Homo sapiens: one gene and its partners. The protein of the gene in region 6 purifies or fractionates together with the protein of the main gene of each other region. This does not show direct contact. Each region holds a gene or a part of one and is shown on either strand. Other genes may lie near its edges.

Region 1 (3,500 bases), on a different chromosome or scaffold from region 6:
CGCTCTTGTCACCCAGGCTGAAGTGCAGTGGCTCAATCTCGGCTCACTGCAACCTCCGCCTCCCAGGTTCAAGTGTTTCTCCTGCCTCAGTTTTTCAAGTAGCTGGGATTATAGGCGCACGCCACCGCACCTGGCTGATTTTTGTATTTTTAGTAGAGACGGGGTTTCACCATGTTGGCCAGGCTGGTCTCGAACTCCTGACCTCAGGTGATCTGCCTGCCTTAGCCTTCCAGTGTGCTGGAATTACAGGCATGAGCCACCATCCCTGGCCGTGCCTTTCTTTTTAAATGAGGGGGTTTGGACTCTACAGTCTCTCTGAGTCCTTTTAATTCTGACATTTGAGATGGCTGTCAGGCGGTAGTTTCTTTTACTGCTGGTTCTTTGAGAGCTGGTAGATGTGTGCACTCATATTTTGGGTGCCCGTGTGTGCTCATGTGTGATTCTGGGGACTTAGCCTCTAGCAAACTACCGTGTCCCAGCCCAGCCTGCCCCTGGGAGCCCAGGAGCTAACCTCCCTGACCTGTGAATGTGGTCCTTTTCCAGATCGATTGAAATACGAATCCCAGAAATCTAAATCCAGCAGCGTGGCTGTCGGAAACGACTTTGGCTTTTCCTCTCCTGTCCCAGGTAACTTTGCCTTCTGGGGAAGAAAACCTAGAGGCATAGTGGGGAGCTCACACCCAACTTTGCTTTGCATATTTGGAGTTTGAGAGGAGGGTGAAAAAACAGATTGTGGGAGGGGGCCTGGGCCTCCTCAGCAGGCTGGCGGGGCTGCTTCTGCCCCCATCTCCATATCCAGTCCATTTAGCAGCTCTGGGGTCTTTCCAATCCAGCCACTGCTGGGCTTCAGAGCCCACAGTTGTGTTCAAGTAACATAGGCTGGCTGAACTCTCAACCTATGCCTCGAGTGTAGGCTAGTCAATGACACATGGCCAGGTGCGGTGGCTCACGCCTATAATCCCAACACTTTGAGAGGCCGAGGAGAGTGGATTGCTTCAGCCCAAGAGTTCAAGACCAGCCTGGGCAACAAAATGAGACCCCCCTATCTCTACCAAAAAAGTACTAAAAATTAGCTGGGCATATTGGCCTGTGCTTCTAGTCCCAGCTACTCAGGAGGCTGAGGTGGGAGGATCACTTGAGCCCAGGAGGTTGAGGCTGCAGTGAGCTGTGATTATGCCACTGCACTCCAGCTTGAGTGACAGAGTGAGACCCTGTCTCCAAAAAAAAAAAAAAGAAGAAAAGGACCCCAAAATGCCCCGTGGTGGGGCTCAGAGACTCATAAGTCTTGGTCTGTGTCCTGGGGAAGCTTATGGTCTTGTAAGGAGAAATGCCCAGAAAACAGGTAGAACAAACTAGCAAAGCTGAGGACTTACTGATTTTAGCAAATGCATGGGAAAAAAGGAGGGCAGGATTAATCTGGGGAGTTTACTCATTCATTCATGACATAGCTGGAGAATATCTGCCATCTGTTGGGCCTTGCCCTAGGTGTTGGAGGAAGAGGAATTTCTAGCTTTGTGTACAAGGTGGTGGGAAGTAAGAATTGCCTGTAAAGAGGGCCAGGCCCTTCTGCTCAGAAGCTCTGATGGCTGAAAGAGGGTTGGATAGGGGTGAGGGGGCTGCAGTGCTCCTGGGATGCGCAGACTACTGGGTTGAGCCACAGCTGGGAACGATGACCTGGTGCCTGTGTGCGAACAGTGGCCCCTCATCAGTCAGTGCCCCCTGCCCCACATGTACACAAGCTGCCCACCTCGGAGAAGGGCTCTTGCCTGGAATAGACCTTGCATCATGCAGTGGAGTTGGGGGTGGAGGAGCAGAGGGATGGGGAGCTGAGCTGATCCCAGCTTGAAGGGAGAAAATCCTGTGGAACTGACTCATAAGCAGCAGGCTGGGAGCTTAGGGCTCAGCAGATGTGCAGCTGGGAGTTTTAAGCAGGAGCCTCTTGTCCTTGATCCTGAATTAACTAGAGATACCGGGGCTGCTGAGATGGATCAGAATGACTCAAAGGGGACTTAGCAGGCAAGGTGACTGGGGATTAACCAAGTTGCAGGACAGAGAGCAGGGGCTTCAGAAACCAGCAAAAAACCCAAGTGGATGCTGAGCGAGCCCGGGAGACTCTGGGTGGCCGGTGGGGTTCTGACTCCAGGACTAGTCCCATTCTATTCCTACTCATTGTCTAATAGCCAGAAACCCTGTGGCTGGGAGGGAGCAATGGATGGGCTTACCTGGCAGGAAGGACAAGGGACTTGCTACAGGTGAATGCCGGCTCTGAGCCAGCACCTCATTTGACTGTCACATGAATGTCGGGGTGCAGGAGGCCCCTGGTGTGCTGGTGAATGTTTCACAGCCAACTCTGGGTGCAGCGGGAGCCTGATATGTAGTGCTTGGTGACCTCCATGGTGGAAATACTCCCAAGCTACCAAGGTGATGTCATGAAACATGGAGTTGGTCAGAGGCGTGGACAGTTGGGAGCACACACGAGCTGGCTGTCTGCACACACAGTAGACCGCTGAACCCTCCCCATTTTTACAGAGGAGGAAACAAAGTCCACAAGGGGAAAGAGGAGCTCCTGGAACTCCACATCCTCCTTGCTTTAAACTCCCTTCTGGCCAGGGAAGAAGCCTGCTCTTTCTTTGCATTTGTCCTCAGATGGGTGGGTAGGGCTGGGACAGCGGCCATGGCTGGCCACGGTGGCCGGCCTTCAGCAGGTGTCTCCTTCCAGGAACTGGCGACGCCAACCCCGCTGTGTCTGAAGATGCCTTATTCAGGGACAAGCTGAAACACATGGGAAAGTGTGAGTCCCACTCAGGCCCCGCTTCCCTCCCCAGCTTTTCTGAGACAGGCCCTGTGGCCTCCCAGGAGTGAGGGAGCCCCTCAGCACATGTAATGCAGCTGACTCTTGGTGAACCAGTGACATTTTCATCGCAGGCTGGCTCCCTCAGCCTTCCTGCCTCACTTCCCTCTACAGCTGAGTCTAGATACAAATTAAGTTTTAAATCCTCTTGAGCCAGATGTCTGCAGAAAAATAACGTGCCACACATGCCCTCACCGCAATCCTCATGTTCACGTTCTCTGTGGCTCGAGGAGGCTTGGCCGGAGCTGACTGCACAGAGAGGCCCTTGCTAAGCCTCTGTGGGGGTGGGGGACCTCTTTCCACAAAGTCCTACCAGCCTTGAATGCCCCCTTCCCTCCCCCTCACCTCCCCGCCACACAGACCCACAGCCATGTGTGAATGAGGCTGCGATCCTTTCAGGCTCCATTTCAAGGAAAATCTCGGATTAGTCATGGAAATCCCAGAACCAACTTTGGAGGTGGCTAGGGGAGGGGCGGGAAGGCGGTGGCGGCGGGAAAGCGAGCCAAGATGCGTTGCAGTGTGTTGCAGCTGGGGAGGGAATACTTGGATCTTGAGCCGCCTGCGGTCCCTGGGCCTGGCTCAGGGTGTCCTGTGCTGCCCCTGCAGGCTGACCCAGGATGTAGCCTCTTGCTCCTGGGGTGGCGTCCTC
Region 2 (3,500 bases), on a different chromosome or scaffold from region 6:
GTGCTGGGATTACAGGTGTAAGCCACCGCGCCTGACCGAAAATACACAACTCTCAATCTCAGTTTTCCCGTCTGTGTATTGGGAAGGGTTGTTATGAGGCTTAAATAAAATTATACTTATCAAAGTACTTGGCATAGTAAGCACTTAGTAAATGATAACTATTATTGTTATTCTCAGTAAAGTTTACTTATAAAAGTTTTTATTTTGTTTGTTAGAAATTCCCTTGTTTCATGTCTTAAATGCACGGATTACATTTGGAAATGTTAATGGCTGTAGCACTGCCGAAGAATCTGTATCTCAAAATGTGGAAGGGACCCAGGCTGATTCAGGTAAAAAAATAAATAAATACAAAGTTTAGTTTTGTTATTTAAAAAAAAATTTATGGCCGGACGTGGTGGCTTATGCCTGTAATCCCAGCACTTTGGGAGGCCGAGGTGGGTGGATCACCTGAGGTCGGGAGTTTGAGACCAGCCTGACCAACATGGAGAAACCCTGTCTCTACTAATAATACAAAAATTAGCCGGGTGTGGTGGCGCATGCCTGTAATCCCAGCTACTCGAGAGGCTGAGGCAGGAGAATCGCTTGAACTGGGGGAGAGGCGGGGGGATGGAGGTTGCTGTGAGCCGAGATTGTACCATTGCACTCCAGCCTGGGCAACAAGAGCAAAACTACATCTCAAAAAAAAAAAATTATAATTCAGTCATCATATTCATAATTCACTCTGAAGCTGGAATATCTGAGGGAGTAGATGTCTGTGTTGGATGAAAGAAAATTTCAGATTTAGTTTAGATTAAGCAAAAAAAAACTTGTAGAATATATATGATCCTAGTTATATTAAAAAGAAAGGATGTTCTTAAAAATCAGCTTTATTGAGGTGTAATGTACATACAATAAAATGCTCTCATTTTAAGTGTGATGGTTCAGTGCATTTTTTTTTTTTTTCTCAGAGTCTCACTCTGTCACCTAGGCTGGCATGCAGTGGCACAATCTCTGCTCACTGCAGCCTCTGCCTCCCAGGCTCAAGCGATTTTCTTGCCTAGTCTCCCAAGTAGCTGGGAATACAGGTGCGTGCCACCATGCCTGGCTGATTTTTGTATTTTTATTAGAGACTGGGTTTCACCATGTTGGCTAGGCTGGTCTGGAACTCCTGACCTCAAGTGATCCACCCAGCTCGGCCTCCCAAAGTGCTAGTGTGAGCCACCATACCCAGCCACATTTTGACAAATGTATGCATCTGTGTAACCACCACCATAGTCAAGGTAGACAGCATTTCCATATGCCCCCAAATTTCCTTACACTCCTTTGCCATCAATACAATTCATGATTTTAGATGCAATTGTAAATGGACTTATTTTCTTAATTTCATTTCCAGTTACTAGTATATAGAAATATAATTGAGTTTTGTATTTTGACCTTGAATCGTTTTTAAAAATTTTTTATCTTTTTTTTTTCTTACACAATTGCATGGCCAGGATTGACCTTGTTTATCTTGTAACATGGCTGAATTTACTTGTCTTACACTTTTTTGTAGATTTCTTAGAATTTCTTACATATATGGTCATGTTGTCTATTAATAAAGAAAATTTTACTTTTTCCTTTCTAATCTTTAAGCTTTTCATTTCTTTTTCTTGACTTACTGGACTGGCTAGGACATCTAGTACAATGTTGAGTAAGAGTGGTAGGAATGGCTGTCCTTGTCTTGTTCCTGGTTCTAGGGGAGGAAGGATTGTTGTGCCATTAGGTATGATGTTAGCTGTGTAGGTTTTTTATAAATGTCCCTTATTAGTTGGAGGACATTATTCTCTTATATTTCTAGTTTGCTGAGAGTTATTACCATTTTTAAGTATTGATTTTTGTGAGATGTGTTTTCTGCAACTATCATGATGGTCCTATGTTTCTCCCCTGTAGTCTACCAGTAGGAGGAATTAAAAGATAGCATTTTAATGTATATAAATTAAGACTTCAAATAAAAACAATTGAACTCGACAATAATATACACCTTTACATTCCCATGTAGCAACAAAGTTGGGTGAGATGTGTTCATGAGGTTGTGCAGCTAAGGAACACTCGTGCACTCTTGGCTGGAAGAGGAGATTGGTATAGTTCCTTGAATAAAACATTCGGCATTACTGTATAAACTGAAGATGTGGATGACCTAGCAATTCCTAGATGTGTACCCTAAAGAAAGTTATGCACATGAGCATCTGGAGACCCCAGTACTGGGCAGCAGCATCCATTCATAACAGCAGAAACCTGGAAACGACCCAAATGTCCCGAGATGGTAGAATGCGCTATTGTGCTCTATTAATACAACAGAATAACATATAGTATTGAAAATAAAAATTTATAGCTATGTGCGTCAAAACTGTTGAATTTCAAAAGCATAATGTTGAATGAAGAAAATCCAATTTGAAGAATAAATTCCGCATGATTCCATTTATGTCGAGTTCACAAACAGGCTAATACAAACTATTAGGATGATATACATGTGGCAAGCTCCAGAGAAGAGCTAGGCAGTGTAAACAACTATTCTGAATTATGTATTTACCTCTGGAGAGGAAGAAGGGAATATTGTTAACAAGGGATGTGCCCGCAGTATGGTATTGATAGTGTTTTTTTCTTTTTCTTTTTTTTTTTTTTTTTTGAGACAGTCTTACTCTGTCACCCAGGCTGGAGTGCAGTGGTGCGATCTTGGCTCACTGCAAGCTCCGCCTCCCGGGTTCATGCCATTCTCCTGCCTCAGCCTCCCGAGTAGCTGGGACTACAGGTGCCCGCCACCACGCCCGGCTAATTTTTTTTTTTTTTTGTATTTTTAGTAGAGACGGGGTTTCACCATGTTAGCCAAGATGGTCTCGATCTCCTGACCTTGTGATCTGCCTGCCTCAGCCTCCCAAAGTGCTGGGACTACAGGCGTGAGCCACCGCGCCCGGCAGTTATTGATAGTGTTCTGTGTCTTAGGCTAGGTGAAGGGCACACAGGCATTTGTTTAATTATTATCATTTTTAAGTGTTCAGATATTTTATATATACTTTTATATATTTACCATATATCTTCCTGCAAAAGGAAGAAACACATTGGTGTGACTGTGCGTATATGTTTAGGGGGAGAAATCTGCGCTTTTCATTTTATAGTCTTGTGTATTTTTTTATGACTGTGTTCGTTGTTTCCACTAAAATCAAGGAAAAAGAAAAAAGCTGTATTCTGTCACTTTTTTCTGTCATGCTTCCTCAGAATCTCTCATATAATAGTAAGCCTTGATTGTTATAATTTTGAGCCTTTCTTTTTTTTCTAATGTACAACATTTTTGCAAAAAGTTGGAGTGGAAATGTAATGAACTCAGACACTGGACGGTTGCCTTTTGTTTCAGCTTCCCACATCACAAACTTTGAGGTTGATCAATCTGTGTTTGAAATTCCCGAATCTTACTATGTTCAAGACAATGGCAGAAATGTGCATTTGCAAGATGAAGATTACGAGATAATGCAGTTTGCCATCCAGCA
Region 3 (3,500 bases), on a different chromosome or scaffold from region 6:
GTTTTTACTAGTGTTTAATTTACTAAGACACCATGAAATGTTGCGTGATGTAGCTATTTAAAGTTGTCTTTTTTTCCATGAAGCAGTTTAAGGCAAGGGCAGGCTCTGGCTTTTAAATAGTCATTTTAACCTTAATTTTTAAAACAAAACTTTTGAATTATTAGTCAAGGTAAAACTAAGACCTTGGAAAGCTGAGGGTGGGTGACACACTTAGCCCATAAAGAAATAAATGTGATTACTGATTATTTTAAGATCCTTACTGAGAGTAATAATCATGAAATTCACAGAGTTTTCTTGTATCATAAGCAGCAAGGAGAGTAAGAAGTTATGTCAGGTTCCTTCATCATAAGAAGTAAAACATTACTTGAGTTTAGAAGTGAATTATAAATATTCTTCTAAATTAAAAAATGCTATGTGGACACCAAAAATATCTTCACTTATTAAGCTGCTGTTTTCACAGTAAAGGGTAGAGTATTTATTTACTTTTTGAGACAGGGCATCACTATGTTATCCAGGCTGGAGGGCAGTGGTATGATCACAGCTCATTGCAGCCTCAATCTCCTAGAGCTCCTGGGCTCCAGCAATCCTCCTGCCTCAACCTCCCAAGTAGCTGGGAATATAGGAATGCACCATCCCATCTGGCTATTTCTTTTTTTTTTTTTTTTTGTAGAGATAGGGTCCCACTGTGTGCCACTATGTTCCTTGTCTCAAACTCCTGGGCTCAAGTGATCCCCCTGCCTCAGCCTCCCAAAATACTGGGATTACAGGTATGCACCATCACACCCAACCTCATTGAGTCTTCCTGTTTCTGCAAGCGTATATTGCTAGAAGTAGAAGATGTATCTAGGACTAGTGGCAGCTATTATGAGAGCAGAAAAAAATTACTTTGGAAATGCATAAACAAGAATCTTTCTTTTGTAAATGTCTTTCATCATGTATCAAAATGACCATAAACTTGTGGTTTGAAATAAATAAATTTGATTAGTATGTTTCCAGCTTCTAGTAAGAAACTTTAAATCCAAAACATATTATGAATAATGAGACAATCGAGGTATATTCTCCAAATATATTTCTTTTATTTATAGCTACTGAAAGATGAAAACGAAAGAAAATGATTGCATGAATATGTTTTCCAAAATTCTGTTTGCCAGAACAACTAACCTGCTGGGTTGAGACACTTTTAGTAGTGAACCTGTGACCAGTAACTTTGATTCATACGCAAGACAATTACAGAATTTTAAGTTAATCTCATCTTTATAGAATTTTTGATAAAGACAGGATAGGTGGTTTCTACCATAATTTTAGATTACAAGGTTACAATGATTGACTAAATACCTCCAGGAATTTCTTTAACAGAGATGGGACACAAAACAATATGTCCTTGCATCTATTTCCATATGATGGCATCCAATGGGAGTTATGTAGCACCTTAGGACTATTTAAGAGATTTTTAGTATTTGAGTCACAATGACCAGATGAAGAATTTAATCACTACCCATATTCTGCAAAAAGCACTTAAATTTTCTTACCTTAAATTTGATAAAGGAGTAGAATTATCAGAAAATACTTCTTGAATAGCCTAGCAACAAACAAGATGGTGAAGGAGATATATCAGTTTGACAGTTTTTAAAAAATATCTTTTCTTCATTAATATTTATAACCTCCTCTGTCCACGGATTAAACTGATGCTTCTATTATGTAGCGGGGGTGCAAACAATTGAACTAACATGCAGTTTTACTCAGAAATATAACAGCTATGAAAACATTTCTTTATAAGGTAAGTAGTTATCAAATAATGTTTATGCATTATCAGGATTTTTGGTAAAGTATTCATTAAAATAGTATATACTTGGAATCCCATCACCTTGTCTCAATTATTTCTCTAAACAATCTATAAAATGTTAGCCAGTCTTTTCATCATGTATGCAGTTCTAAATCTGACCATAAGCCAGCATTGCTGCTTTGAGACTAGAGAATGTTTCACTAGGTACCAAATACAGTAACATTTATCTATATGCCAGTTGCCTATATATTTTTTAAAGATGAATGTAATAGAACAGAAAAACTTACCTCTACAAAATGAAGAAGCTTTTCAGTGGATGCCTCAAAAGTTTTTCGAGCCATTTCTGATTTTCGTAATTGGCAGTCGAGTACCATGATTCTCTTTTTTAAATCCTGAACACTTTCCTGCACAGAGATATCAAAAGGAGCATTTACACATTTCTTCAGTTTTACATTACTGGTCCCTATTTTCAGTTTTTATGAACTAATATTCAATATTACCAAATTATCTTTTTCTCTTACTGTACATATGTTTTGATTTTGGGGGGCATGTAACTAACTGCATATTTAAAAGTTAATTTGCACAGAGATACTGCAAGTTTTATGAGATAAGTTGTATATGAGTTTATTGATTCTTATAGTAAAATACATTTAAATTAGTTTATGGTTTTGTTTTGTTTTGTTTTTGCAATGTGTCTTACCAGATGCTGACAGAAACCTCTACTAATTTAACATAACTAAAAATGCTGGATACACACACACACACACACACACACACACACACACACACACACACGATGTAAGACAAAGCTAGCAAGGAAGTAAAGGAATTCCATGGAGACATGCAACAGCGATGCCAAGTGAGCCCACTGGGGTAAGAGAGCACTGAAGCATTATTTGTTCGGAGGGTATATGCTGATCCCTGGTGGCCTACAGTTTGGGGTTTCAACAGTCACAAATGGAAAACAGAAGAAACTCAATGGGTGAACTGGGAAGAAGTAAACTTCACAGAGGTAAACAGTGTTTTGATGTTGGCTCAGGTGACTTGAGTAAAAAAGTTTCTCCTGAATAATTCCTAACCAAAAGTCCCCATTCACACAGGTTTGGGGCCAGAATTTACATTATCTGTGTGGCCTAAAAAGCCATATGCTGAAATTTTACTTTAAATTGGTCCCAGGCTAGCAGAAGCAAACTCAAAACTCTGGAGAGATATTTCTAAAACTCAGAGCTCAAAGAATTCCCACTTATAATGCATTGATAGAACATGATCTCACAGACACAAACAAAAATCACTAAACATATGAGAAAATAAGCTCTATGAATGAAAGCTAACTGAAGGAAATAAAGTACAGTATCAGATCTATAAAGACAGCAGATATTTAAGTGAGCAGATACAAAATATAAGGCAATTATGTTTAATATGTTTTTAAAAATAAGAGGGAATTGAAAGTATAATACACAAGAAACTATTGAAATAGATCCAGATAACATAAAAAATACATCTCAAAAATAAAAATGTAACATAACTAAATTAGAAACTTTATTTATAGATTTGACATCCAGTTAGATACAATTATAAAGAGAATGGGTGAACTTGACAACAGAGGTAAAGAAACTTCTCATAATGGAACAGAAAGACAAAAATTGAAATACAAATGGGGAGAAAAGGTAAAGAGAAAACAGCCAGAAGAAGCTATAGCACACATCCAATCTGAATT
Region 4 (3,500 bases), on a different chromosome or scaffold from region 6:
TTGTATACCTGTGGTCAGCTAGACAGCTTCACCTCTGGAGTAGTAGCTGACCAGTGGCAAGGACCTTCAGGGTGACTGGAGTGTGTGCCTCTCTTTCATTACCCAGCAGGCTGGCCTAAAGTTTTCACATGTTGTTTGAGAGGGTTTCAAGAGAGAGAAGCCTATAAATCATCTTGAGGTATAGGCTGGGAGCTTATGTAGTATCCCTTCCTCCACATTCTGTTAGCCAAAGCATGTCACAGTGCCAGCCCAGGTCCAGCGGGGTGGAGAAGCGGGCTAGTAAGCCATGGAACTTCTCATTGTCAACCCCAAATCACCCTTGAAGACCATAGTCAGATCACCACCTCAGGCTGTGTTGTGTGCCTGTGCTCTGGGTTCCCTCTCTCACTGCATTTAGAACATTATGTGGCCACTGTTGGTTTATTTCTTGGTGGAAAGTGAGCCTCTTAAAAACAAGGACTGTGTTTCAACCCAGGATTTGGCTTGTAGAGTAGGTAACGAAAAGCTGAAGTTGTTATGAAAGTAGAGTTCAGACCACTGATATCTGGCAGTGTGGAAATTGGGATTAAAGATAATGTATGCTCGTGTCTTAAAACTTGCTTGTTGATGTTTAAAAACTTTGGAGCAAACTCATTCTAACATATCAAAATCAAATATTTCTTTGAAAAAAATGGAGGGGATAAAGAATCCTGGCCAGGATTCTGAGTAGAAATCATTTAATACTTGCACACTATCTTTGTAGGTTTTTCATGAGGTTACATGTTTGTTTGGGAAGTGAAGTTAATTTCGTGGTGTGTTTGTCAGAGAAAAACATACCTGTCCATTAACTGATTCATTGGGATTTGGGATAACATTTCTATTCTAGAATGTAAAATGAAGGAAGGGTGTCAGTCAGCATCCTCGATATTACTCTTGAAGATGTCGAACATAAATATTTCTGTTAGAATGAGAAGTAGCATTTGCCTCATGGGAGTTTGTCTTGAAGCGAGTATGTCTTATATATGTACTAATTCTTAATTGATGGTTTTTCACATGCATTTTGTGTTTTAGGTTCAGCCGTCTGTATATCTCCCCAGATACCTGAAACTGACCACCTGAGTACGTTTTCCCATTGCTGAGCTGTTTCCCTGATATCTGGCCATGCAACGGAGATCAAGAGGGATAAATACTGGACTTATTCTACTCCTTTCTCAAATCTTCCATGTTGGGATCAACAATATTCCACCTGTCACCCTAGCAACTTTGGCCCTCAACATCTGGTTCTTCTTGAACCCTCAGAAGCCACTGTATAGCTCCTGCCTTAGTGTGGAGAAGTGTTACCAGCAAAAAGACTGGCAGCGTTTACTGCTCTCTCCCCTTCACCATGCTGATGATTGGCATTTGTATTTCAATATGGCATCCATGCTCTGGAAAGGAATAAATCTAGAAAGAAGACTGGGAAGTAGATGGTTTGCCTATGTTATCACCGCATTTTCTGTACTTACTGGAGTGGTATACCTGCTCTTGCAATTTGCTGTTGCCGAATTTATGGATGAACCTGACTTCAAAAGGAGCTGTGCTGTAGGTTTCTCAGGTAAGGGAGACAAAATTTTGAGGTTGCATGCATAAAGGAAGCAAGGGAGGTGTGGCTGCTGTCATTTTATGAAGTGTGGGTCCCTATCAAATTCTGAGTGGTTAAGGGCTGCTGAGGCTTTGCGTCTTGAAGAGGAGGCTGGAGCATGCAGGGACTAGTTTTTGCCATTCTACATTATGCTGCATTATTCACTCTTAGTCTGCACTAGGACCTGCTGGAAGGTGGTTTTGTAGAAGACATAGTATTGGAAATATGCACCAGCTCCTTATGGTAGGGTCACAGAAAGACCCACAGATGTATTTGTAATAGGGAGTTCTCAAAAAAGATGACTGTGCTTGTGAAGTAGGCTCAGTGTGCTGTCTCTGATTACCAACTTGTCTGCACCTGGTGAGACAGAGCACACTCATCTGCAACAAGTTACATGAGGCAGATTTAGTATTTACAGTTAGGCAGCAAGGGAAAACAGGAGCCTAGGATTCATCGTGAGCCCATCTTCAAGGCTCAAAAAGCTGCCTAGGGCTGTTGGAGTCTTCACTGTGTGTGTTCCTTGCATGCAAATAAGGAACCCCAAAGAGGCAGCCAGGTACAAACCTAGGAATCACATGAATCACTGGGCAAAGCTTTGAAAGACATCCTATTCGGGAGAGGATTAGGCTGTTTCAGCCAGCCCCCTTTTATCTCAGGGTGTTGGATTTCCAGCACATTTCCATAGTTATTCTTGAGAACTACAAGCGAGAAAGGAGGGGGAGAACTACATAGGTCCAAGGCCACCTGGAGAACTGTCCTGCGATGCCTCTGGATGACTTCGTTAATAAATGGACCACACCCTGCTATGGCATGCTGGCCATGTTTTAGGAGCCATGATAATCACTCTGCATAACCTAACCAATTTAATTTATGCAGCAGATCCACATGGAGATGGGATTATCTTTATTTTATTTTATTATTTATTTATTTTTTTTGAGACGGAGTCTCGCTCTGGCACCAGGCCTGAAGGGCAGTGGCGTGATCTCGGCTCACTGCAACCTCCGCCTCCCAGGTTCAAGCGATTCTCCTGCCACAGCCTCCCGAGTAGCTGGGACTACAAGGCACGCACCACCATGCCCAGCTAATTTTTGTATTTTTAGTACAGATGGGGTTTCACCATGCTGGCCAGGATGGTCTCTATCTCTTGACCTTGTGATTCACCCACCTTGGCCTCCCAAAGTGCTGGGATTACAGGCGTGAGCCACTGTGCCCGGCCTTGATTTTATTTTACTTTTTTTATTTGTAGTTTTTTTTCTGACCACCTGCTGACTGTTGAGGGATTGTCTTGATTTTATAGATGAGGAAGCCAAGACCCAGAGAAGTGAGGTTACTAGCACAAGGTTACCCAGCTCGGAAGCGATGGAGCTGGGACTTGAGCCCAGTCTACAGATTAGCTGTGTGATGCATTGTCTCTCACTTTCTTCCTCACTAGTTCCTTTTTACAGATATTTCATGGGACCAAAATTGCCAGCAGGATTTAAATTAGGCGTTCTAAATATTAGAATGTGAAGGGGAGGAGAGAGGTAGTCCTGAAACAAGGAAATCTAATCCTTCCTTCTGCTTTTCCTGACATCCTTCCCCTTTCCTTCCAAGATGTATCCTTATGCATCTAATTGTGGGAGAAGAAAGAATATATGCCCTGTCTTCAACATGTTTTTCCATAGAGGTTAGAAAAATACATATTACTGGTATTTTTATTGAGTTAAAATTTATATAGCATAACTATTTTGTAGTGCACAGTTCACTGGCGTTTAATACTAATAATAGTATTTTATTCACATGGTAGGTATTATGTATTTAGTAGCATACTGAACACCAATATGAACTTCTATATTTAGAAACATCAAAGGAGTGACTGCCTTTAACGTTGTCTTTTTACCAAATGCAAGGTTGTAAGGAA
Region 5 (3,500 bases), on a different chromosome or scaffold from region 6:
TGACATTATTAAAGTTGGATGAATGAGAAAAAGTGAGTTGAATGCTTTCTCTTCTTAGAAAACTTTGATTGCTATGGAGATGCACATGACTGACAGTCCTGAACTTCATGTGTGTTTAAGGCCTGGATACCATGGCAACAGTTATTGTGAAAGATTGATGATTTTACTTAATCATGTTGGACCCTACATACATTTGCATAAATGTTCCTCTATAATGTTTACCCTTCACAGAAGAGCCTAGATAACATTTGAAGTGTACATGTTAATGATAACCTGTAACCATAATTCTTTCCACATTAAGGATGAACTACTAAGTAGAAAAAAGAGAGAAAAGAAAAAAAAGACTGGCAGCAAGAGTGTGGATGTATCAAAACTCGGTGCTTCAGAAAAAAATGAAAGGTGAGAGCATATAAAAATACTTTATAATTTGAAGCTGTTTTAAAATACATCTTTAATATGATTCAACTTCATATGTATGTCTATTTACATGTGCTCTCATTTATATCTGTGGTAGTCTTATAAAAGACTAATAATGTGCCATTGTTTATGAGACAAGTTCTAATCTTAAGCAAAATGTCTTCAGGTTTTTTCCCCCATATAAAGTGTGACTATATATTTAAATAATCCCTCAAATTCTTCTAGTTTGAAATTTTTATACTGAACTTTAGAAACAAAGTACTATTAGACGGACCTATCACTTAGCTCAGGAGTGACAGTATGTAGAGAGGCAGTGATATGCAGTACACTCAAAAAGATACCACCATTTCTTCTATTGATTCATAGAAAGGAATAAAGGGTTTAAATAGTTCACACAGCAGGGCATGAACTGGGATCAATGTGGGATGGAGATCAGAGACTATTCTGCCTGTCATCTATTCTGATGACATCAGTGAGTAATGCTTCAGTGAACTGCAAATGACATTAATTTTTATGTATTGGTTTGTTTATGCTACAGTCTTCATATCTGGTTGTCAGCACTTGGGAACACTCTGATGATGGTTAGTTTTTTATAGCTGAAGTAATCATAAGGCTTAAGAATTCGTTGTACAAAAGTGATGAAAAGCCCAGGTTAGAAAGAAGGCTTTTGTTTATCTTTGTAACTTGATTAGGAGCCTCCTTCCCCAAAATCTTAGCCTAGATTCTCTTACATGCTATATATATTGCATTTGTTGTGACTACTGTATTTCATGATGGAGTAAGTCAGTTATAAATATTTCAGTGCATACTTTCTTCATTTTTTTTGTTGAAGTAGCCATTCACAAAAGAATTCATGATCTTTATAGAATTATTTTGCCTCCCAACTTTCTCTGTATATTCCTCATATGTTGTATGGTGTTCTTTTTTCTCCCTCCCTTTAGATTGCTGATGAAACCACAGTGGCATGATTTGCTTCCATGCAAACTGGGGATTTGGTTTTGCCTTACACTAAAAGCATTACCTCACCTCATCCAGGTAAAATGTACCTCTTTTATATAACATTAGATCTTTTATTTTTAATCACTCATGAAATAATTTATGCCCATGTCGGCTCTCTGAATGCTGATATGCAGTGGATGCTTTATAATGTTGATTGAGTAGGATTTTTATAAGTTAAACCTAATTTAGATAATTCTAAGATAATTTAGATATGTTTCTGTAATTATCTTTTATAATGGTTTTAGATCACCTTAGAGTCCCAAGATGCTAGAAAAAGAAAAAAACATACTATCTTTAGTACAGAGATAAAAGCAATAAAAATTTAATCCACTGTTATCATTAAAAGCATAACCAGTAAAAAGGAACAGTATTCAAGTAGCTTGCCACCCATTATTTTAATAGCATTTAAGTACATAGTGTTAAAAAAAAAAAAAAAAAACTTTACATGAACATCTGTATAATTGTACCAAAATATATATTGCTTTCCATTTTATTTGCAAATTTAAGAGGAGTGAGGACATTTTGTCTTATACAGGTAATGAGTTTCTGTTTCTATTTAGTCTTGATTAAATAATAAAATGTGGATATGTATCATATTTAGATGTCAGTTTCTTTTATTTTTTTACATTTAGTATACCAAAGCATATTTTATTAAATTATTGCTTTGTTAATTTTGATTTTTGCATCAGGTTTGAAAATCCCCAACACATAAATATTTGAAAGTAAATAAAACACTTTTTGGTGTACAGATTTTGAGGTTGAGATTGTAATTTTTTGGAGAGAAATGTTTTATTTTAGAAAATAAGTGTTTATAATCTAGAGGACCAGATAATATTCTAATTCAGTTCTACCCACTTTGTAGTTATATATTAGAGCTATTTTTCCTGATTTTTTAAGGAAGCTAATGACTACAACTTCTGCATTTTCCTTTATTTTTCTCATAATGAAAATTTTATATTTAAAGGGGATATTGAACCAAAATACTAGTGTGCTTCTTTTTATCCTTTGAGAAATTACCAGTTCTTCCATCAAAATAGTTCATCTTAATAGTTATTGCTTATAGAATCTTATATTTTGTTTACAGTTAATAGAGAAAAATTACAGTATTTTGGTAATTTAAAAGGTTTGTTTTTAAGTTGTTTAGTGTGTTATATTGTTTGCTTGAAAAAATACTCTGCAATGTTTGTATGCTGTCTGTAAGACTTAATGAGGGAGGGAAAGTCTTTATCACACTGGTATGTTTATGAGAAAATGAGGCAGAAAATATTTTTAGGGCAGATTTTCTTATTTTTTGAAGTCTGATTATTTTTTGCCAACTTTAGAATCCGTGCAATAGGCAAACCAGAATATAGATGAGTTAAAAAGTATATTCATGAGGCAGTATAAATAGAATATTACATAAGATATCAATATTAAACACTTCTTTGTAATTTTAATCTAATTTGAAATAAAATTTATTTGGTAAAATTAACATATTTCTTGTTTAGCATGCAGGGTAATTTGCCAGACTAGAACCAACATATTGTTATGGCTTAGATTTATAATTTACTTTAAAATACTTGCCTGTGATAGCTGTTAATTCATGTAATAGATTGATTGTTTTGCCTCATCATAAATTTGTAGAAAATATACAAAAATGAGGAATTTTACAGAAACTTTTTAGTTTCTTTAGAAACTCTGCTTTTTTTAACTGATCACTTTGAATTTTAAAGTTTTTACTTACTTGATGGTATCTGCTGGCCTTTCGGTTTTGAGATGCTAGGCATTAGGGTTCCAAGACCTTTTAAATCTAATTTTTAAATTTTATTCTAATTATTTCTTCTTGATAAATGGATTTCAAGAAGAAAATTAAGATGATTTTCCTTTTTAAAGGAAATATTTGATATTTTTATTCTGCTGTGGGGACCTTAGATTAGTGTTTCTAGTGGTCACTAACAAAATAATGTAATGCAGTAGACTCTTTCAAATATATATTATAATACTTTAGAAAGTACTTTAGATTGATTGCTTATGAAATACATTAGCAAAACAATACTGTTCAGTTGCTCTCAGGATTAGATTTTTGTCGCTTTTTGTTTTGTAGT
Region 6 (3,500 bases):
ATCTGACAAGTCTTGTCTCTCTTCAGCCCCTTCCTCTCTTAATTGACTACTTCATCCTCGCTCCTTGGAACATCCTTTCATTGGTCAGCCACATTTTTCCTGCTTGGCCCATCCATCCCCATCTATTTGTCATACCCCATGAAACTTAACCTCATTATGGTTTGCATTCTGGATTCTCCTCTCCACCATCTGGCTTTACCTTGGGGGTGGTGTCGTACATGACACAATGACGTGTTTCGGGCCATATCCTATTGGAACTGGACTTCAGGGAATAACCTTGTGTTGTTTTCCCTCCTTCTGCAAGATGAAAAGCAGGATGTGCATGGCTATCAGCATTTGTCAGATGCTTTCCATGTTGAGTTTTGTGGTCTGTGCTTTCAGGTACAGGCATATGTTCAAAAGGGGTTGGCCAATGGGTACATGTTGTTTGTTTCTGCCCACAGCTGCCCCAGTGCTCAGCTGTGAAGCTGCAACACAGACTGAAAGGAGACTGGATCTGGCTGCAGTGACTCTGAGGAGAGGCTTGAGATCTAGAGCTTCGCGATGCAGACCGCGGTCTTTGATAGATTACAAATCCTACATGGACACCAAGCTGCTGGTGGCGAGGTTCCTGGAGCAGTCCTCTTGTACCATGACCCCAGACATCCATGAACTTGTAGAAAACATTAAATCTGTTTTGAAATCTGATGAGGAGCACATGGAGGAAGCCATCACAAGTGCCAGTTTTCTAGAACAGGTAGTTTTATTATTAATCTCAGGCATGAATCAGATGACTCATTTTCATAGCAGCTAAAGTGGCTTCTCCGCTTTCTTGTCCAAGGCAGAGTAAGTTCATGGTCACAGTCTTCAGGGAAATTGGGTTGAGAGTTCTGGGGAGGGAGACAGAGGAAGCCGGGGAGCTTTCTTTCAAGTGTGGTAACTTTCCCACATCATTCTTGGCTCAAGGGAAGAGAACCCAGTTTTTCTGGGATGTGGAAGCATGTCTGGGAAAATTAAAGAGTGCATCCTAGGAATAAAAGCGGAGGATGTGGACAGTGTGGAGTGCATTCAACATTTGATTTCCTGAATTGAAGGTTTCCTTTGATAGGGCATGTTTTCTCAGCCCTTTGGAAATGATGACATAGGTGAATTTTAATATCAACAAGATTCTAAGAGGCTGTTCACATTCCCATGAAATGTTTGGCAAGATAAATAAGCCAACAGGTCCTAAGGGAATAAGCACCTTTTCTTCTTGTAGATTAAAAAGTACAAGGCAATCCCCGAAACTGAAGCCACTTGGGGAAAAGATAGAATTGGGCATGAACATAATCCAGTTGGGTCTCAGGTTTCTCCTCTTTAAAGTAAATGGTTGGACTAGGTAGTCTCTCTACCTTTATTTTTGAATGAATGGAGTTTCCTTCTGGTAAGAGCCTTCTCTCCACCTCTTTTAAGAGCCATTCCCTTTTAGGTGTTGGCTTCATTGCTGCAGGTAGTGGGGTGGATGTTGTAGACAGCACCCCACAATGGCGTATGGATGTTTTGTGGCTCTGTGTCTTTGGGCATTAAATGGCTAACAAATACTTCCTCAACTGAAGTGGGCTAATTTCTCAGGGTAATTACCAACTTCAGGATGTAGGTAAATTTTCAATTCAAATTGAGTAAATACCCTCTCACTGTCCCTTCCGTTCCCCCTTTCTACCTGCTGGCCTCTTCTTACAGAAGCCAGAAGCCAAACTCTCTCCCAGTCCCTCAGGGGATTCAGCGGGGAGGAATGATCTGATTACTTGCATGAAGAGGTACATGAACCACAGACCCTCTTGGGTTTGCACTCTGAAAGAGTGATCAGTTGACGGTTCCGGGTGAGGCTCCAGTTACTAACCTATGTAGGGAAAACATTTTACATCCTGGTGTCCCTTAGCTACTCCAGATGTCATTGTCTGTCACCTTCCCTCTGTCCGGCCCCAATAGCCCAATAATCAGGAGTCACTTCTGGAAGGCTGCCAAGCTCTGATGAGCTAAGAGCTGGAGCATTCACCAGGTAGTGGGCCTGGACCTTCTGCAAAGTCTTGCTCCCTGAGAAATAGCTCTGGGGAAGAAGAACAAGCACTTATACAGTTCACTAGATGCTATCATCACAAATGTTTGCTAGATCTTTGTGCCCCAGGCAGGTTAAAACTTCAGGTGCTGAGATTGTTGTGATAGATTTTGGGCCATCTCCTGGGCCTTCCAGGACTGGAACCTAGAGGTGAGCTTTCACAATTCTATACCTTTTCCCTGGTAGAAGGAGGTAAGAACACCAGAAGGAGGTAAGGACAGCAGAAGGAGACCAGTTATTTCTGACTCTAGCTGGCTTCGCATCTTGGAGTTTTTAGATCCATTTTGATTTTCACTGATATCAAAACCACTTGTCCTAACTTACTATGTAGCACAGTCAACTTCTTTGAATGTTGAACTTTTATTCTTAATCGGGAGACAAGGACAGACCTTAAAGACAAATGTAATTAGTAGACTGTTAATAAAATTTAATTTTCCTTCTTTGGAGGAATAATCTTTTAATGACCTTAAAGGCTCAGAATGGTACAAATGAAACAAAAAGTCATCCAAATGATTGTGCTGTGATGTTAGGTAACAATAAAGCCCCAAGGTTTTCCGAAGCTGCTGACAGTATTATGGGTCAAAGAAACATGGCAGTGCAATTTTTAAAAAATTGACCGGACAGTTCTCTCCTCTTCAATCCCAGTTGGATGAGGAATTTTTCATATTTTTGCCATTTTTACAGAGTAAGTGATATTATTATATATTCAAAATTATGTTTGTGACACATTGCAAAATAGATCTAGCAAAAAGAATCATTCTTAAAGACTTTTTACAAATAAATTGGCCTAATTTTTATATTGTTTATTAAAGGATTATCAGATCCATTTGAAGCATCATTGGATGGTTTGGGTTGACTGTTTCTTTTTTGAAACAAGGTCTCCGTCTGTCACCCAGGCTAAAGTGCGGTGGTGTAGATATAGCTCACTGCAGCCTTGAAATCCTGGGCTCAGGTGATCCTCCTGCCTCAGCCTCTCAGGTAGCTGGGACTACAGGCACACACCACCACGCCCAGCCAAGTTTTCTTATTTTTAGTAGAGATGAGGTCTTGCGATGTTGTCCAGGCTGGTCTAGAACTCCTGGGCTCAAGTAATCCTTCTGCCTCAGCCTCCCAAGTAGCTGGGACTACAGGCATGAACCACCATGCCCAGCTAATTAATTTTTTTTTTTTTTTTTTGTAGAGATGGAGTCTCACTATGTTACTCAGGCTGGTCTCAAACTCCTGGGTTGAAGTAATCCTCCTGACTCAGCCTCCCAAAGTGCTGGGATTACAAGTGTGAGCCACTGCGCCTATACTTGGTTGACATTTTATAAACCCATCACCTGGTCCCAATCCCAGACCAGTGGTTCTTACTTGGATTCTTGTTAAAAATACAGATTCCTGAGCCTGAGTCCAGGCTAACTGTCCCCATTGCTATGGGAATTCT
Region 7 (3,500 bases), on a different chromosome or scaffold from region 6:
TATGTTCAAATTGCAGCCAATAGTTAAATGTACTATATCTGAACAGCTCTTAGAACAGTGTCTGGCATGTTTTAAGTACTGTACAACCATTTATTAAAGATATAAAAACAAAGCAATATCCTTTTTCTGATACTTCAACACAATACATCAGGGATTCCACTTGGACTCAAATGTAGCCAAATACCAGGTATATTCTTTTACTTTTTGACCTTTGGTCTTTTTCCTGCAGCTTCACCTACTTCTAGTTTATGGGATTTTTTTTATGTTCTAGGCCCTGTGCATAGCACAGCAACTCATCCCCACTCTGTCCCTTTAGAGTGGGCAGATCATGAGTATTGTTCCCTGGGTAAAGTGTCTGACTGCCAGACCCACTAGATGATCTCGACCTGGACCTAGCAGTTCCTCTCTGTCTTGTTAACTGCTGTGCTAAATATTCCACCCAGCGTTTTCAGCTGTCTTCAGTGTAAGGCTTGCCCCAAGTTACCTTTTGTCACTATTGGAAATGAAAATTCTACTTCATGTGCTTTATGTAGTTTAAATCATATCTTCACAAGACCCTAAAAAGGAAACAAGTGGGTTTTCTTAGTTCTACAGATGAAGAAAAATGAGGCATGGAGAGTTTAATTTTCTTGTCATGGGTCATAGAGTTGATGAATAATAAATCAGATTTTGAACCCAGGAAGTGTGGTTACAGAGCTCATTCTGGTCCATTTTGTGCTGCTGTAACAGAATTCCACAGACTAATTTATAAAGAACAGAAATTGATTGGCTCACAGTTCTGTAGGCTGGGAAGTCTGAGATCAAGGGGGCTGGCATCTGGTGAGGACTTTGTTGCAGTGTCACCCCCACGGTGGTGGGGGAGAGAGAGGTGGTAGGGAGAAACAAAAATGGGGCGGGGGGGTTAGAAACAAAAGGGGGCCAAACTTTTATAAGGAGCTCATTCCATGCTAATAAACTCCCTCCTGTGATAATGTCATTAATTTGTTAAGTCTGCCCTTGTGGCCTGATTACCCTTCAGTAGGCCCCACCTCTCAACACTGTTGCATTGGGGATTAAGTTTCTAACATGATTTTTGGGGGACATATTTAAACCATAGCAGAGCTTGTGTTCTTAACCTCTGTGTCTACTCATTTTCTTCATTTCACAAAGCAGTATAAACTGTTTTGTCATGAAAAGCATTCTTTTTAAAAGGTCAAACAAGTCTCCATCTTTGCATGCTTCCCTTACAACTTTGGGCACAGCTTGGCAAAAGCCTAGGCATCTAGAATTTAATATCCATAAGTGTAGTATATTCTGTATCTTTTGAAATGGCCATGTAATATAGATATCAATTTAGTTCACTATTTTTATGGATTTAGACATAGCTTCACAAACATCTCAGTCTTGCAGAGAGAAAAAAATTATCTGAATTTTGCCAAAATTGCCTGTGTTGTTTTATTGAATTTGGTCAAGATATGCAGGGATGACGCATACACATCCAGTAATTGAACCATTTGAATGTCTGGTATGGAAACCAAATTTTTAAAATCTGGAATCTTCAACTCTGAAAACTCGTATCAGTGAATAGGACTCAGAAAGCTCAATTTGTATGCTTTTATGAGCCAAAAAGTACGTGGGATTGTGTCAAAGCAGGATACTGTTATTTACCTCAGATGACTGAAACCACACCAGGACAGCCAAGGGCCTTCCAGGGTGCCAGGGCATCGAAGTACCCTCCACGGCATTCTCTTGGGGATCCAACACTTACATGTCACCAGCAGCAAGAGCTGCTTCATTTCTTCTATTCCATTTGCTTGACCAAATGCTGATGCATTTCTTTTTCAGGTCCACGCTAGTTTGATTTTGTTATTAATATTGTTTTAAAAAATGCCTTTTTCTGCCTTTGGTAAACTAAAGGTCTAACATATATTCCAACTTCTTTTGACAGAGGAAAAGACAAGCATACGAATCTAACCTTATCTGTCATGGCCTGCAGTTAGAAGCAACAAGATCAGTAAGTACTGGTCCCTTTTCAGCCCTCGGCTGACCACTGTTCTCGGGCAGCTTCGTGCCACTTGGAATACTTGGGTGACATTGGAAACATGCAGCCCTGGCCACATCTTAGTCATAGACTGGGAGAGGAGTCAATCAAAATCTGCATTGTGTAGGATGTATTCTTTTTTTCTGATCAAAACTAGCAGATCTTTTTTAATAGCCAACGAATTTTACAATGAATGCATGTATGAATGATTATTTTCTTTCTTTAAGAAACTTCTAAAAGCTTTTTTGTTATACAAAAAATAGTTTATGGTAAAAAATTAGAAAACATAAGAATAAGGAAAATAATCTGTATCTTAATTATCCATAAATAATTTTGCAGTCCTTCTGAGCTGTTTTACTCAAAAATATATATGTACACATTTTTTATCTTTCAAAAAGGAGAAAATTACCACTTCACAGTTTTATAATTTGCTTTTTCCCTTTAATATATAGCAAATGGATTTATGTCAATAAATATAATTCTTTGACATTTTTAACAGCCACATAATATGATATTGAACAGATAGACAATAAGTTCATTCGAGGTTTAGAAAATTAAAAATTTTTCATTATGCTAGCACTACAATGAATATTCTAGTGTTTTTACTTTAAGTCAATAATTAGGGTAGAGTGATAGACAAATAAGTTTGGTTTTCTTCATTTTATAAATTATTTTCATAGTTTTATGAACTATGATGATTTGAATTACTTCCTTAATGATTCAAACCAAGAAATCGTCTTTAAGACAAAAATTTATGATGGTTTGCAAATCTGTTTTTATTGTTATCTTCACTTTTAGTGGTGGTCTCTGTATTGTTTTTTTAAAGCTACCAACAACATAAGAAAAATCTATGTGTTTTAAAATTGTGAAAAGAGTTGGTTTCTTGTTCTGCGTTTTTATTTTTCCAATATAGGTATTGGATGACAAGCTTGTATTTGTAAAAGTACACGCACCATGGGAGGTGTTATGTACGTATGCTGAGATAATGCACATCAAATTGCCTCTGAAACCCAATGATCTGAAAAACCGGTCCTCAGCCTTTGGTACACTCAACTGGTTTACCAAAGTCCTCAGTGTAGACGAAAGCATCATCAAGCCAGAGCAAGAGTTTTTCACTGCCCCATTTGAGAAGAACCGGATGAATGATTTTTACATAGTTGATAGAGATGCTTTCTTCAATCCAGCCACCAGAAGCCGCATTGTAAGTCTAAACCAAATTTAGTTGCTGTCTTGGGGTAATTTGGAACCTGCTGTTTTGTGGTTTGGTTGGTTTGGTTTTATTTTTAAAAACTGCACAAAAAGAAAAGAAATATGCCAGCAGATTTGTGTTACAGTAGTAAACAATGATTGGATTGGTTAATTACACTATATAAACCGCATACTCTATTTTGGAATCTTTTTAGGTTTACTTCATCCTCTCTCGGGTCAAGTATCAAGTGATAAACAATGTTAGCAAGTTTGGGATCAACAGACTTGTAAA

The links.
Region 1: the proteins of ENTREP1 (region 6) and CUEDC1 purify together in Homo sapiens (affinity purification with mass spectrometry; 3 studies listed by BioGRID and IntAct, with this or other methods). This does not show direct contact.
Region 2: the proteins of ENTREP1 (region 6) and ANKRD13A purify together in Homo sapiens (affinity purification with mass spectrometry; 3 studies listed by BioGRID and IntAct, with this or other methods). This does not show direct contact.
Region 3: the proteins of ENTREP1 (region 6) and STXBP4 purify together in Homo sapiens (affinity purification with mass spectrometry; 3 studies listed by BioGRID and IntAct, with this or other methods). This does not show direct contact.
Region 4: the proteins of ENTREP1 (region 6) and RHBDD1 purify together in Homo sapiens (affinity purification with mass spectrometry; 3 studies listed by BioGRID and IntAct, with this or other methods). This does not show direct contact.
Region 5: the proteins of ENTREP1 (region 6) and DNAJC1 purify together in Homo sapiens (affinity purification with mass spectrometry; 3 studies listed by BioGRID and IntAct, with this or other methods). This does not show direct contact.
Region 7: the proteins of ENTREP1 (region 6) and ANO6 purify together in Homo sapiens (affinity purification with mass spectrometry; 3 studies listed by BioGRID and IntAct, with this or other methods). This does not show direct contact.

The regions. Positions count from the first base shown.
Region 1 is NC_000017.11:57,868,413-57,871,912, reverse strand, and holds part of CUEDC1 (CUE domain-containing protein 1), read left to right. Parts: intron 1-543; coding exon 544-627; intron 628-2,719; coding exon 2,720-2,791; intron 2,792-3,500.
Region 2 is NC_000012.12:110,030,430-110,033,929, forward strand, and holds part of ANKRD13A (ankyrin repeat domain-containing protein 13A), read left to right. Parts: intron 1-215; coding exon 216-329; intron 330-2,017; exon of another isoform or gene 2,018-2,281; intron 2,282-3,367; coding exon 3,368-3,500. UniProt on the Homo sapiens protein: Ubiquitin-binding protein that specifically recognizes and binds 'Lys-63'-linked ubiquitin. Does not bind 'Lys-48'-linked ubiquitin.
Region 3 is NC_000017.11:55,076,765-55,080,264, reverse strand, and holds part of STXBP4 (syntaxin-binding protein 4), read right to left. Parts: intron 2,188-3,500; coding exon 2,071-2,187; intron 1,580-2,070; coding exon 1,530-1,579; intron 1-1,529. UniProt on the Homo sapiens protein: Plays a role in the translocation of transport vesicles from the cytoplasm to the plasma membrane. Inhibits the translocation of SLC2A4 from intracellular vesicles to the plasma membrane by STX4A binding and preventing the interaction between STX4A and VAMP2.
Region 4 is NC_000002.12:226,863,554-226,867,053, forward strand, and holds part of RHBDD1 (rhomboid-related protein 4), read left to right. Parts: intron 1-1,050; 5' UTR 1,051-1,140; coding exon 1,141-1,573; intron 1,574-3,500. UniProt on the Homo sapiens protein: Intramembrane-cleaving serine protease that cleaves single transmembrane or multi-pass membrane proteins in the hydrophobic plane of the membrane, luminal loops and juxtamembrane regions.
Region 5 is NC_000010.11:21,916,731-21,920,230, reverse strand, and holds part of DNAJC1 (dnaJ homolog subfamily C member 1 precursor), read left to right. Parts: intron 1-301; coding exon 302-399; intron 400-1,358; coding exon 1,359-1,452; intron 1,453-3,500. UniProt on the Homo sapiens protein: May modulate protein synthesis.
Region 6 is NC_000009.12:69,387,715-69,391,214, forward strand, and holds part of ENTREP1 (endosomal transmembrane epsin interactor 1), read left to right. Parts: intron 1-443; coding exon 444-736; intron 737-3,500. UniProt on the Homo sapiens protein: Functions as an activator of the E3 ubiquitin protein ligase ITCH in the ubiquitination of the CXCL12-activated CXCR4 receptor. Thereby, triggers CXCR4 endocytosis and desensitization, negatively regulating the CXCL12/CXCR4 signaling pathway.
Region 7 is NC_000012.12:45,345,095-45,348,594, forward strand, and holds part of ANO6 (anoctamin-6), read left to right. Parts: intron 1-1,927; coding exon 1,928-1,993; intron 1,994-2,933; coding exon 2,934-3,221; intron 3,222-3,423; coding exon 3,424-3,500. UniProt on the Homo sapiens protein: Small-conductance calcium-activated nonselective cation (SCAN) channel which acts as a regulator of phospholipid scrambling in platelets and osteoblasts.